Homo sapiens: one gene and its partners. The protein of the gene in region 1 purifies or fractionates together with the protein of each later gene. This does not show direct contact. Each region holds a gene or a part of one and is shown in the gene's direction. Other genes may lie near its edges.

What was found.
Region 2: the proteins of SLC16A4 (region 1) and HIGD1A purify together in Homo sapiens (affinity purification with mass spectrometry; one large-scale study listed by BioGRID and IntAct). This does not show direct contact.
Region 3: the proteins of SLC16A4 (region 1) and DIPK2A purify together in Homo sapiens (affinity purification with mass spectrometry; one large-scale study listed by BioGRID and IntAct). This does not show direct contact.

The regions. Positions count from the first base shown.
Region 1 is NC_000001.11:110,380,872-110,384,526, reverse strand, and holds part of SLC16A4 (monocarboxylate transporter 5), read left to right. Parts: intron 1-1,560; coding exon 1,561-1,693; intron 1,694-2,731; coding exon 2,732-2,875; intron 2,876-3,383; coding exon 3,384-3,545; intron 3,546-3,655. UniProt on the Homo sapiens protein: Proton-linked monocarboxylate transporter.
Region 2 is NC_000003.12:42,787,482-42,791,136, reverse strand, and holds part of HIGD1A (HIG1 domain family member 1A, mitochondrial), read left to right. Parts: intron 1-3,655. UniProt on the Homo sapiens protein: Proposed subunit of cytochrome c oxidase (COX, complex IV), which is the terminal component of the mitochondrial respiratory chain that catalyzes the reduction of oxygen to water. May play a role in the assembly of respiratory supercomplexes.
Region 3 is NC_000003.12:143,981,812-143,985,466, forward strand, and holds part of DIPK2A (divergent protein kinase domain 2A isoform a precursor), read left to right. Parts: intron 1-3,655. UniProt on the Homo sapiens protein: May play a role in cardiomyocyte proliferation through paracrine signaling and activation of the PPI3K-AKT-CDK7 signaling cascade.

The DNA.
Region 1 (3,655 bases):
GCCCCCCGGCTAACTAGAATTCTGAGAAATAAAAGTTAATACTCCACAGAAAGAAAACCTCATCTCCAAAGCAGCAATTCTAGTGGAGTACAGGTAAGGAAGATTAGGTGGGGCAGAAAGAAAAGGATGGGGCCCCTGGCCCAACCTTAAGATGGCCACAAATCCCAGTTAATCCAAAATTAAGCACCCCTTTTCACTCTTGAGTGTCTCAATTTGGATGATACATTTTATGGTCAACCTATTTATATATCTAGTGAAGGAAGGTACTCAGCTCAGCAGCAGAGTTAAATCAAAACTAATCTAAGAACTGACAGGAATAATTATTCCTCTTTGGACAAACACTTTTCTCCCACAAAGGTAACTGGAATTAGCTGTCTTTAACAGATGCTACTGAGGGCAGTAAAAGAGTGCCAGGTCTAGAGTCAGTCTAATCTGGGTTCAAATCTCAGTTCCAGTACCCCTATTTTAAGCAACTTTTTACCTCTCTAAACTTCAATTTCCTGATCTTGGAACTGCTGTTGCAGTTATAACTGAGAAAATTATTACAGTGACAGAGATCTGACCTAACCAACTCCATCCATCCTGCTTCTAACTTCCAAGCTGTCCTTGTTCATTCCCATGCGTAGGCTGAACTAACTTTGGGGGAAACTTAGTTGATAGCTTAACTTTGAAAGAGAAACTAACAGCCGTTTCCAAAAAAAAAAAAAAAAAAAAAAAAAAACCTCCTTTTAACAGCCCTTTCCAAAAAAAAAAAAAAACACTTCCTTCCTGCCTGGGGACTAGATTGCCTTTGTAGGACTAACACATTAGCCATAAGATTAGAAATTATGGTTTAGGAGTCATACAGCTGGAGGCCACAAGACTGACCCTCCCCAAATTGCTCGGGGGATAACATCACTATTGTGAAACCTAAGATCAGTGCTTGAGATAATTTGCAGGCCCTGCATTTGATGGATCAGCTGGCACCACCCAGATTAATAAACTGGCTCATCTGGTTGTGGGTCCCCCTCCACCCTTCCACCCAGAAGTGACTCAGCGCAAAAGGGCAGCTTTGATAGAATTTCATCTCTGACCCAACCAATCAGCACTCCCAACTCACTGGCCTCCCACCCACCAAATTATCCTTAAAAACTCTGATCCCCAAAAGCTCGGGGAAACTGATTGGTCTAATAAACTCCAGTCTCTTGCACAATGGGCTCTGTGGGAATAACTCTTTCTCTATTGCAATTCCTGTCTTGATAAATCAACTGTATCTAGGCAGCAGGCAAGATGAACCCACTGGGTGGTTTATTTGGTATAAATTATTTGGTACACAACATTGGCATGCCTATTCCAAAGCCATGAAATGAGGATTAAATGAGATGTTTCCATTTAAAATGCTTAGCTACTTTAAAAGGAATGACTTCCCCCATAAAATATAAGATGTATAATGAGGCTCAACCAATAAGGCAAACTGGTAAATAGTAGTAAGCTGAGGGAATCATAACTTCTAGTAGCCGTAATTGCCTCTGTAATGGCTCACTTACCACCTGAGTTGGACTCTGGTCTGCTTTGATTTAGGTGAATGTGTTTGTGATGGGGATGACCAAGACTTTTGCAATTTTCTTTGTGGTCTTTCAAGAAGAGTTTGAAGGCACCTCAGAGCAAATTGGTTGGATTGGATCCATCATGTCATCTCTTCGTTTTTGTGCAGGTATAAAGCTGGCAATAAGCTTGCTGTCTAAGGAGAAGAACCACAAAGGGCAATTCCAAGATTCCTATTCAAGACTGAATAGGAATTCAGTTTCTAAAATTAAGGTTCATTTACTGATATGTAACGCTGAGAAAGTAAGGAATTGCAATATTTAGCTTCCACTTGACTTAGTAACAAAGTTGGGAGAATCAGCATTCAAACAAAGAAAGCTGAGGAATTATTAAATGCCATGATTCAGTATTTCATGCATTGCCTTTCCAGTCTGTTAATGCCTTAATATAGGTTCAATGAGTAAGGCCCTCAACCTGGAAGTTAGGCCATGAAGTTCTAGTTATCTAAGTATATTCAAAACAATTTTATTTATTTTTTTTTTTTGAGACACAGTCTCACTCTGTTGCCCAGGTTGGAGTGCAGTGGTGCTATCTCGGCTCACTGCAACCTCTGCCTCCCAGGTTCAAGCAACTCTCCTGCTTCAGCCTCCCAACTAGCTGGGATTACAGGCGCCCGCCACCATGCCTGGCTAATTTTTGTATTTTTAGTAGAGATGGGGTTTCACCATGTTGGCCAGGCTGGTCTCAAACTCCAGACCTCAGGTGATCTGCCCACCTTGGCCTCCCAAAGTATGGGATTAAAGAGCCACGGCGTCCAGCCTCAAAACAAATTATAGAACCAATTTCTTCTCCTTTTATTTGGAGCTGTAACAGGGTGGAAGAGCAGATAAGTGATTCAACCTTATTCTAGTCATTGACCACTAGATGCAATCTTTTTGTGGAGGTTCTATAATGCATTTCAAATCACCTCCCCTCCAAACCTTACTTACAATCAACATTTCCTTTTAAACTCCCCTTCCAAAAACTAAAATAGTGTGGCACTAGTGATATTAAGAAACCCGATATGAAAATCTTTTTTGAAGAATACGTAATACTTCAAAGTAAACAGTCCTCTTGCTTTCCTTGTCATTCATTTAAATCGCCATCAGAGGATAAGGGATGCCAGATCATTATTTACCTAAGAATTGCCTTTCTTTCTTCTCTTAAGGTCCCCTGGTTGCTATTATTTGTGACATACTTGGAGAGAAAACTACCTCCATTCTTGGGGCTTTCGTTGTTACTGGTGGATATCTGATCAGCAGCTGGGCCACAAGTATTCCTTTTCTTTGTGTGACTATGGGACTTCTACCCGGTGAGTCCATTGTAATTATGTGACCATAGAAGGCCAGGAGTGGTGGCTCACACTTGTAATCCTAGCACTTTGGGAGGCCAAAGTGGGTGGATCGCTTGAGTCCAGTTCGAGACCAGCCTGGGCAACATGGTGAAACCCTGTCTCTACTAAAAATACAAAAATTAGCCAGGCCAGTGGTGGCACATGCCTGTAGTCCCAGCTATTTGGGAAGCTGAGGTGGGAGGATTGCTTGAGCCCAGGAAGCTGAGGCTGTTGTGAGCCGAGATTGTGCCACTGCACTCCAGTCTGGGTGACAAAGTGAGACCCTGTCTCAAAATATGTGTGTGTGTGTGTGTATGTATATATGCATCCATCCATAGAAGATAGAAGATGGAACAGGACTCTTCCCTTCTACTGTTCCTGGGTCCAAAAGGCCTAGCTGTATTATCTCGGATCCAGGAGATTATCTTTTCTGTTACCAAGCCACTTAATGTAAGAGTGATTCTAAACTATTACGTTTTTCTTTTAGGTTTGGGTTCTGCTTTCTTATACCAAGTGGCTGCTGTGGTAACTACCAAATACTTCAAAAAACGATTGGCTCTTTCTACAGCTATTGCCCGTTCTGGGATGGGACTGACTTTTCTTTTGGCACCCTTTACAAAATTCCTGATAGATCTGTATGACTGGACAGGTACGTCATTCTAAGTTTATTTACTATCAACTGTGCAAGATTTAGCGTTCAGCTTTCTCCCTTTGAGAAATGGAAGTTAAGACTTTCAGAGCAATCGATTTCACAAGGTA
Region 2 (3,655 bases), on another chromosome or scaffold:
AAATGTGAACTATGTCATATACTAAACATATGAGAGATTTGTTACTCAACTACTGTATGTATTTTGTTGCTTTGATCTGTCTGCCAGAAACTTAGTGGTATGTTTAGATACCTCATAAGCCAGTACACTTTCACTATTCTACCTTCTTAAAAAGAGCTTGCCTGTTTACTTTGAAATTAGCTTGTTAATTGCAGCTACTCAGCAGGCCAAGGCAGGAGCGTCACTTGAGCCCAGGAGTTCAGGGCTGTAGTGTATAATGATCATGCCTGCGAATACCCACTGAACTCTAGTCTGGGAAACATAGGAAGACGCCGTGTCTGAAAAAAAGAGAGAAAAGAAAAAGAAACTGGCTTGCCCAGTCCAAAACGGGAAAAATGTCTCATTTTTACATTTGGATTACATTGAATTTATAAATTTGGAGAGAATGGAAATTTTAGAATGTGGTGCATCTACTGATTTTCATTCAAACCTTTTGTGTCCTTAAATATGATTTTATTGTTTTCTCTAGGTCTAGAAATTTAATTTCTCTAGATATGCTTTTTAATGTATTCATCAAAGTAATCTTTTTTCTTATTGGTTCTAGTTGTTTTTCTTTCTTTCTTTCGAGACGGAGTCTTGCTCTGTCGCTCAGGCTGGAGTGCAGTGGCACAATCTCAGCTTACTGCAACCTCCGCCTCCCGGGTTCAAGCAATTCTTGTGCCTCAGCCTCCCGAGTAGCTGGTATTACAGGCGCCTGCCACCATACCTGGCTAATTTTTGTAGTTTTAGTAGAGACAGGGTTTTGCCATGTTGGCCAGGTTGGTCTCGAATTCCTGACCTCAAATGATCCACCTGCCTCAGCCTCCCAAAGTACTGGGATTACAGGCGTGAGCCACTGCACCTGGCCTCTAGTTGTGTTTCATTTGATTCTCTTGGATTTCCTATACACACAGTTAGATGATCTGCAAACCAGTAGAGTTTCTTCCTAATTATGCGTATAGTTTTTTTTATGTGATTTAAAATTGTTTAGGATATCCAGGCAACAACAGCAGTATTCACATGTATCCCTGTCTTATTCTGATCTTTAAAGGGAACTTTTTTTTCTTATCTCTTTTTCGTTTTTTAATAAAAAATAAGGCTGAGCACTTTGGCTCATTCCTGTAATCCCAGTGCTTTGCGGGGCTGAGGCAGGAGGATCACTTGAGCCTAGGAGTTCAAGACAGCCTGGGCAACACAGTGAGACCCTGTCTCTACAAAAAAAATTTAAAAATTAGCTGGGCATGGTGCCACACGCCTGTAGTCCCAGCTACTTGGGAGGCTGAGATGGGAGTTTGCTTGAGCCTGGGAGGTCGAAGCTGTGGTGAACCATGATCATGCCACTACAGCCTGGGTGACAGAGCAAGACCCTGTCTCTAAATAAATAAATAAATAGATAAAAATTAAAAATGGAATATTTATAGTGTTTTAACACTAAGTACAATTTGTATTTGCTTTTGGTGTCTGAACTATATTCTAATTTACTTTTACTATTCAGATGTTCACATAGTTTCATCTTTCGTGAATCTTAAGAGATTTTTCGTTTTTTTTTTTGTTCTTGGATGTTCTTCCAGTGAATTCTTTTTTTTAATTTATTTTTTATTAAAATTTTTTTTTTTTGTAGACACAGGTCTCACTCTGTTGCCCATGCTGGTCTCAAACCCTTGGCCTCAAGCAATCCTCCTACCTCAGCCTCCCAAAGTGCTAGGATTACAGGGATGAGCCACTGCTCCTGGCCAAGATTTTCTTATGTAAAAGCAATGGTTAATTCCCAAAGTAGGCCAGGCACAGTGGTTCACACCTATAATCCCAGCACTTTTTTGGGAGGCTGAGGCAGGCAGATCATGAGGTCAGGAGTTCGAGACCAGCCTGACCAATGTGGGGAAACCCCATCTCTACTAAAAATACAAAAATTAGCCGGGTGTGGTTGGCACATTCCTGTAATCCCAGCTACTCGGGAAGCTGGGGCAGGAGAATCACTTGAACTCAGGAGTCGGAGGTTGCAGTGAGCGGAGATTGCACCACTGCACTCCAGCCTGGGTGACAGAACAAGACTCCGTCTCAAAAAAAAAAAAAAAAAAAATTCCCAAAGTAAAAACCTAATGATCATGGTTGATAATATTATTCTAATACATTTTAAAGTTGATAAGCTAGTATTTGGTTTAGGAATTTTATATCTATGTTTATAATTTATATTGCTTTGTAATTCTCTTCTCATGGCTTTTTTTTTTATTTTTTAGTTTTTGGAGACAGTCCCGCTCTGTCGCCCAGGCTGGAGTGCAGTGGCAGGATCTCGGCTCACTGCAGCCTCTGCCTCCTGGGTTCAAGTGATTCTCCTACCTCAGCTTCCTGAGTAGCTGGGACTACTCCCGCCACCACACCAGGCTGATTTTTGTGTTTTTAGTAGAGACGGGGTTTCACCATTTTGGCCAGGCTAGTCTCGAACTCCTGTTTTCAAGTGATTCACCTGCCTCGGCCTCCCAAAGTGCTTGGATTACAGGTGTGAGCCACTGCACCCAGCCTCTTATGTTATCTTAATTTTGTTTTGGTATCAGGGATTTGTTTTCTTGGAAAATATATTGGAAAAAAATGTATTGCTATGTTTTTAATGCCCTGGAATACTTTAAATAACATGAATTGAGAATGCCCTTATAATTTTTATTAGACCTTGTTAATGAAACTATTGGGGTCTTTATCTTTTGGGGATAAAGCATGGATTGCCCATTTAATTCTTTCTATGGTTATTGGTATAGAAAGGTTTTCTACAACTTCTTGAATCAAATTTAGGAATTTGTATTCTCCTCAGAAATCATTCATTTCACCTAGATTTTCAAATTTAATTGGCAAAGAGCAATCATCTCTTATTTTTAAAAATCTCTTTATCACTTGTGATTATATCCACTTCCTCATTCCTAATGTCGTATGTTTATTTTCTCTTTGATCAGACTTCCTAGAGGTTTTACAATTTTATTTGTTCTAAGAACCAGTACTGTTTTTATTTTTCAAATAATGTTTGATAGCTTCCTAATCTCTCAGTTTTTACTTTAACCTCCAAATCTAGTTATTGGTGCTCAGCTTCTCAGTGGTTAGAGGTGGGGGTATGTGTGTGGTTGTTTTACGTTTTGATTGCTAAGTTTTGGCCTTATGGTAGTCATCCAGGAAGAAGGACTTTTTGGAAGTTGGAATTTTCTTTGTGGCCTAATAAATGATTGGTTTTGTCAAAGCTTCATAGACATTTTAAAGAATGTGGGATCTCTGTTTTAAATTAAAATATTAAATTTTATTTATTTTTAAGAATTTAAGTAAGTTTATTTAATGGTGCCGTGCAATTCTGTAGCTTTAGTTTGGGGCTTCTTATTCTGTTGTTTTCTGAAAGAGACAGATTTTCCCATTTTGTTGTCTTCTAATAGAGCTAATCTTGTGTTCCTAACAATTTTTGCTCCATTTATTTATTTTGCTGCTATATTAGATTATTTTAAAGTTTTATGACTTTAAAAATTTATATATATATATATATATATATATATTTTTGAGATGGAGTCTCGCTCTGTCGCCCAGGCTGGAGTGCAGTGGTGTGATCTCGGCTCACTGCAACCTCCGCCTCCCAGGTTCAAGCATTCTCCTGCCTCAGCCTCCCAAG
Region 3 (3,655 bases), on another chromosome or scaffold:
AAAGATAATTATAGCTTGGCCTAAATTTGCTTCTTACTACCTGTGTGACTTTAGGTAAATCGTTTAACACTGTACTAATAAGATTGAACTGGATTTACAATTGAGGTACAGTTAAACTCTAAATTTCTTGGATTTTACATTTCCTTTATTGATCACATAAAATATTTGATTTTGATCTAGGTAGATTATTAGGTTATTTCAGCATTTGGAATTTGTTTTGTGCTTATCAGTAATAAAAAACAAGTTAAAATACTGTGTTTTTGTGTGTACACGTTTCCAATTTTTAAGTTTCTTGCATTTTTAGTGCTTGTGGATGCTCTCTACGTTTCTTATAGCATCAGTGCTTTTAAGAGTTTAGTGACTAGTCTATATATTTCATTATGAATTAGAAATTACTAGAGGTCAGTAAAGATGTTTCTCTAATTTAGTGGTTCTTCACTCTATTTGGAAGGGGGTTCATTATTTGTAGATGCCGTTTTAGTAGGTGTTTAGGAGGTGCATGAAGATAAGCATATCTTTTGATGAATGTCTGGAATTGTTACTTAAAATTTTTAAATAGAGAAAGCCCATCAGACTAACAGCAGATCTCTCTGCAGAAACCCTGTAAGCCAGAAGAGAGTGGGGACCAATATTCAACATTCTTAAAGGAAAGAATTTTCAACCTAGAATTTCATATCCAGCCAAATTAAGCTTCATAAGCGAAGGAGAAATAAAATCCTTTCCAGACAAGCAAATGCTGAGAGATTTTGTCACCACCAGGCCTGCCTTACAAGACCTCCTGAAGGAAGCCCTGAATATGGAAAGGAAAAAACAGTACAAGCCATTGCAAAAACATACCAATTGTAAAGATGATTGACACTATGAAGAAACAGCATCAACTAATGAGCAAAATAACCAGCTAGCATCATAATGACAGGATCAAATTCACACATAACAATATTAACCTTAAATGTAAATTGGCTAAATGTCCCAATTAAAAGACACAGACTGGCAAATTGGATAGTTAGAACCCACCAGTGTGCTGTATTCAGGAGACCCATCTCACATGCAAAGACACACATGAAACATTTACCAAGCAAATGGAAAGCAAAAAAAACACAAAAAAAACAAAAGGGGTTGCAATCCTAGTCTCTGATAAAACAGACTTTAAACCAACAAAGATCATAAAAGACAAGGGCATTACATAATGGTAAACGGATCAATGCAACAAGAAGAGCTAACTATATATACATGCTCCCAGGATCAGGAACACCCAGTTTCATAAAGTAAGTTCTTAGAGACCTACAAAGAGACTTAGACTCCCACACAATAATAGTGGGAGACTTTAACACCCCATTGTCAATATTAGACAAACGAGACAGAAAATTAGCAAAGATATTCAGGACTTGAACTCAGCTCTGGACCAAGTGGACCTAATAGACATCTACAGAACTCTCCACCCCAAATCAACAGAATACACATTCTTCTCAGCATCATATTGCACTTATTCTAAAATAGTAAAACACTCCTCAGCAAATGCAAAAGAAAATCATAACAGTCTCTCAGACCACAATTCTAATTGCAGTCAAATTAGAATTCAGAATTAAGAAACTCACTCAAAATTGCACAACTACATGGAAACTGAACAGCCTGCTCCAGAATGACTACTGGGTAAATGATAAAATTAAGGCAGAAGTAAATAAGTTATTTGAAACCAATGAGAACAAAGACACAACATATCAGAATCTATGGGACACAGCTAAAGCTGTGTTTAGAGGAAAATCTATAGCATTAAATGCCCACAGGAGAAAACGAGAAAGGTGTAAAATCGACATCCTAACATCACAATTAAAAGAACTGGAGAAGCAACAACAAACAAATTCTAAAGCTAGCAGAAGACAAGAAATAACTAAAATCAGAGCAGAACTGAAGGAGATAGAGACACGAAAAACCCTTAAAAAAATCAATGAATCCAGGAGCTGGTTTTTTGAAAAGATTAGAAAAACCAGACCACTAGCAATACAAACTGTTTTGTATTGGGAAGGCTGTTTCATCTACATTTTGTATTGGGAAGGCTGTTTCATCTACATTTTGTATTGGGAAGGCTGTTTCATCTACATTGAAAATCTGTTGATTAGTCACTTCCATTAATTATCTTAGCTAGATCTTCTGGATAATTTGCTATGGTTTCTGTATCAGCACTTGCTGCTTCTCCTTGCGCTTTTATCTTACGGTGATGAATTCATTCCTTAAACTGCATTAACCAGCCTCTGCTAGCTTCAAACTTTTCTTCTGAACTCTGAGCCTTCATAGAATTGAGGAGAGTTGGGTTCTTGTTCTGGATTGGGTATTGGCTTAAGGGAATGTTGTGACTGATTTGATCTTTTATCCAGATCACTAAAACATTCTCCCTATTAGCAGTAAGGCTGTTTTGCTTTCTTAACATTTGTGTGTTCACTGGCGTAGCACTTCTGATTTCTTTTGATAATATTTCCCTTGCATTCACAGCTTGGCTGTTTGGGTTAAGAAGCCTAGCTTTCTGCCTATCTCGGTTTTAGATGTGCCTTCCTCACTATGCCTACCTATTGTTTCTAGCTTTTGATTTCAAATGAGATACCTGTAACTGTTTTCATTTGCACACTTAGAGGCCATAGTAGGATTAATAGGCTTAATTTCAGTATTGTTGTGTCTCAGGGAACAGGGAGGCCTGAGGAGAGGCCTCCCTGTTCCCTGGGGATGGCTAGTTGGTGGAGCAGTCAGAACACACACATTTATTGATTCCTTTTTTTCTCTAATGTTCATTTTCTAGTTACATATTTTAGCAGTGGAAGGTATCTTAGATAAAGCCTGTTATTTTACTTAAGGTGAAAATGAGTGTTCATGGTCATGGAACACGTTTTTTTTTGATTTAGGATGATAATCCTGCCAGTAGTTTTAAAATCCATTAGAAAACCTTGCTAAGATAAGAGTAATTTTGAGGCTAGGCCAAGGAGAACAGAAAATATGGCTGGGAAAGGGAAACAAGATGAACTTGGACCAGATGTGCTCAGAGTGGAGGTTGCATTAATAGGATATCAGTTTGTCCCTTCCCAACCTTTGGATGTAGGGTAAAAGACATCTCTCAAGAATCTTTCCCTGAATTCCACCCCATCTGCTTCCTGACTAGGAAAGGCCCCTACTAAATGATCCCCTGGGACCTGCACCACTGCTTAGTAACTAACACTTTTCATATTCATAATTATTTGTTTGGTGACTGCATGCTCTTCTAAAATAAAAGCCCATGGCTAAATGGAGACTGTTTGGTTCACCCTTAATTGCCACCGTAACACAGTGCCTGTTGCCTGGTAAATAACTGCTGGTTAATAGGCTGCAGTGCTATCAGTTTAAATAAAAGGATTGGTTGATTACATTTACACAAGTGAAGAAGATAAGGGAAAGCATAAATACTTTTAGATTTGGTAATAAAGACAGTGTCTTCCCTCTTATTGATCATTTTGGTTCTTAGATTTTGATAAGCAAGACTTGTCATCCTATTTTAGCTTTATAATGTAAAGTTCTCTATTTAAATTTTTTTCAGGTCCATAGTACTGGTATGAGTTAGGAAAAAATGAAGTTAATCTCTAATAAACTGTTGAATGTAATAAGAAAATCCAAAGTCATTCCTAGTAGCAATCTC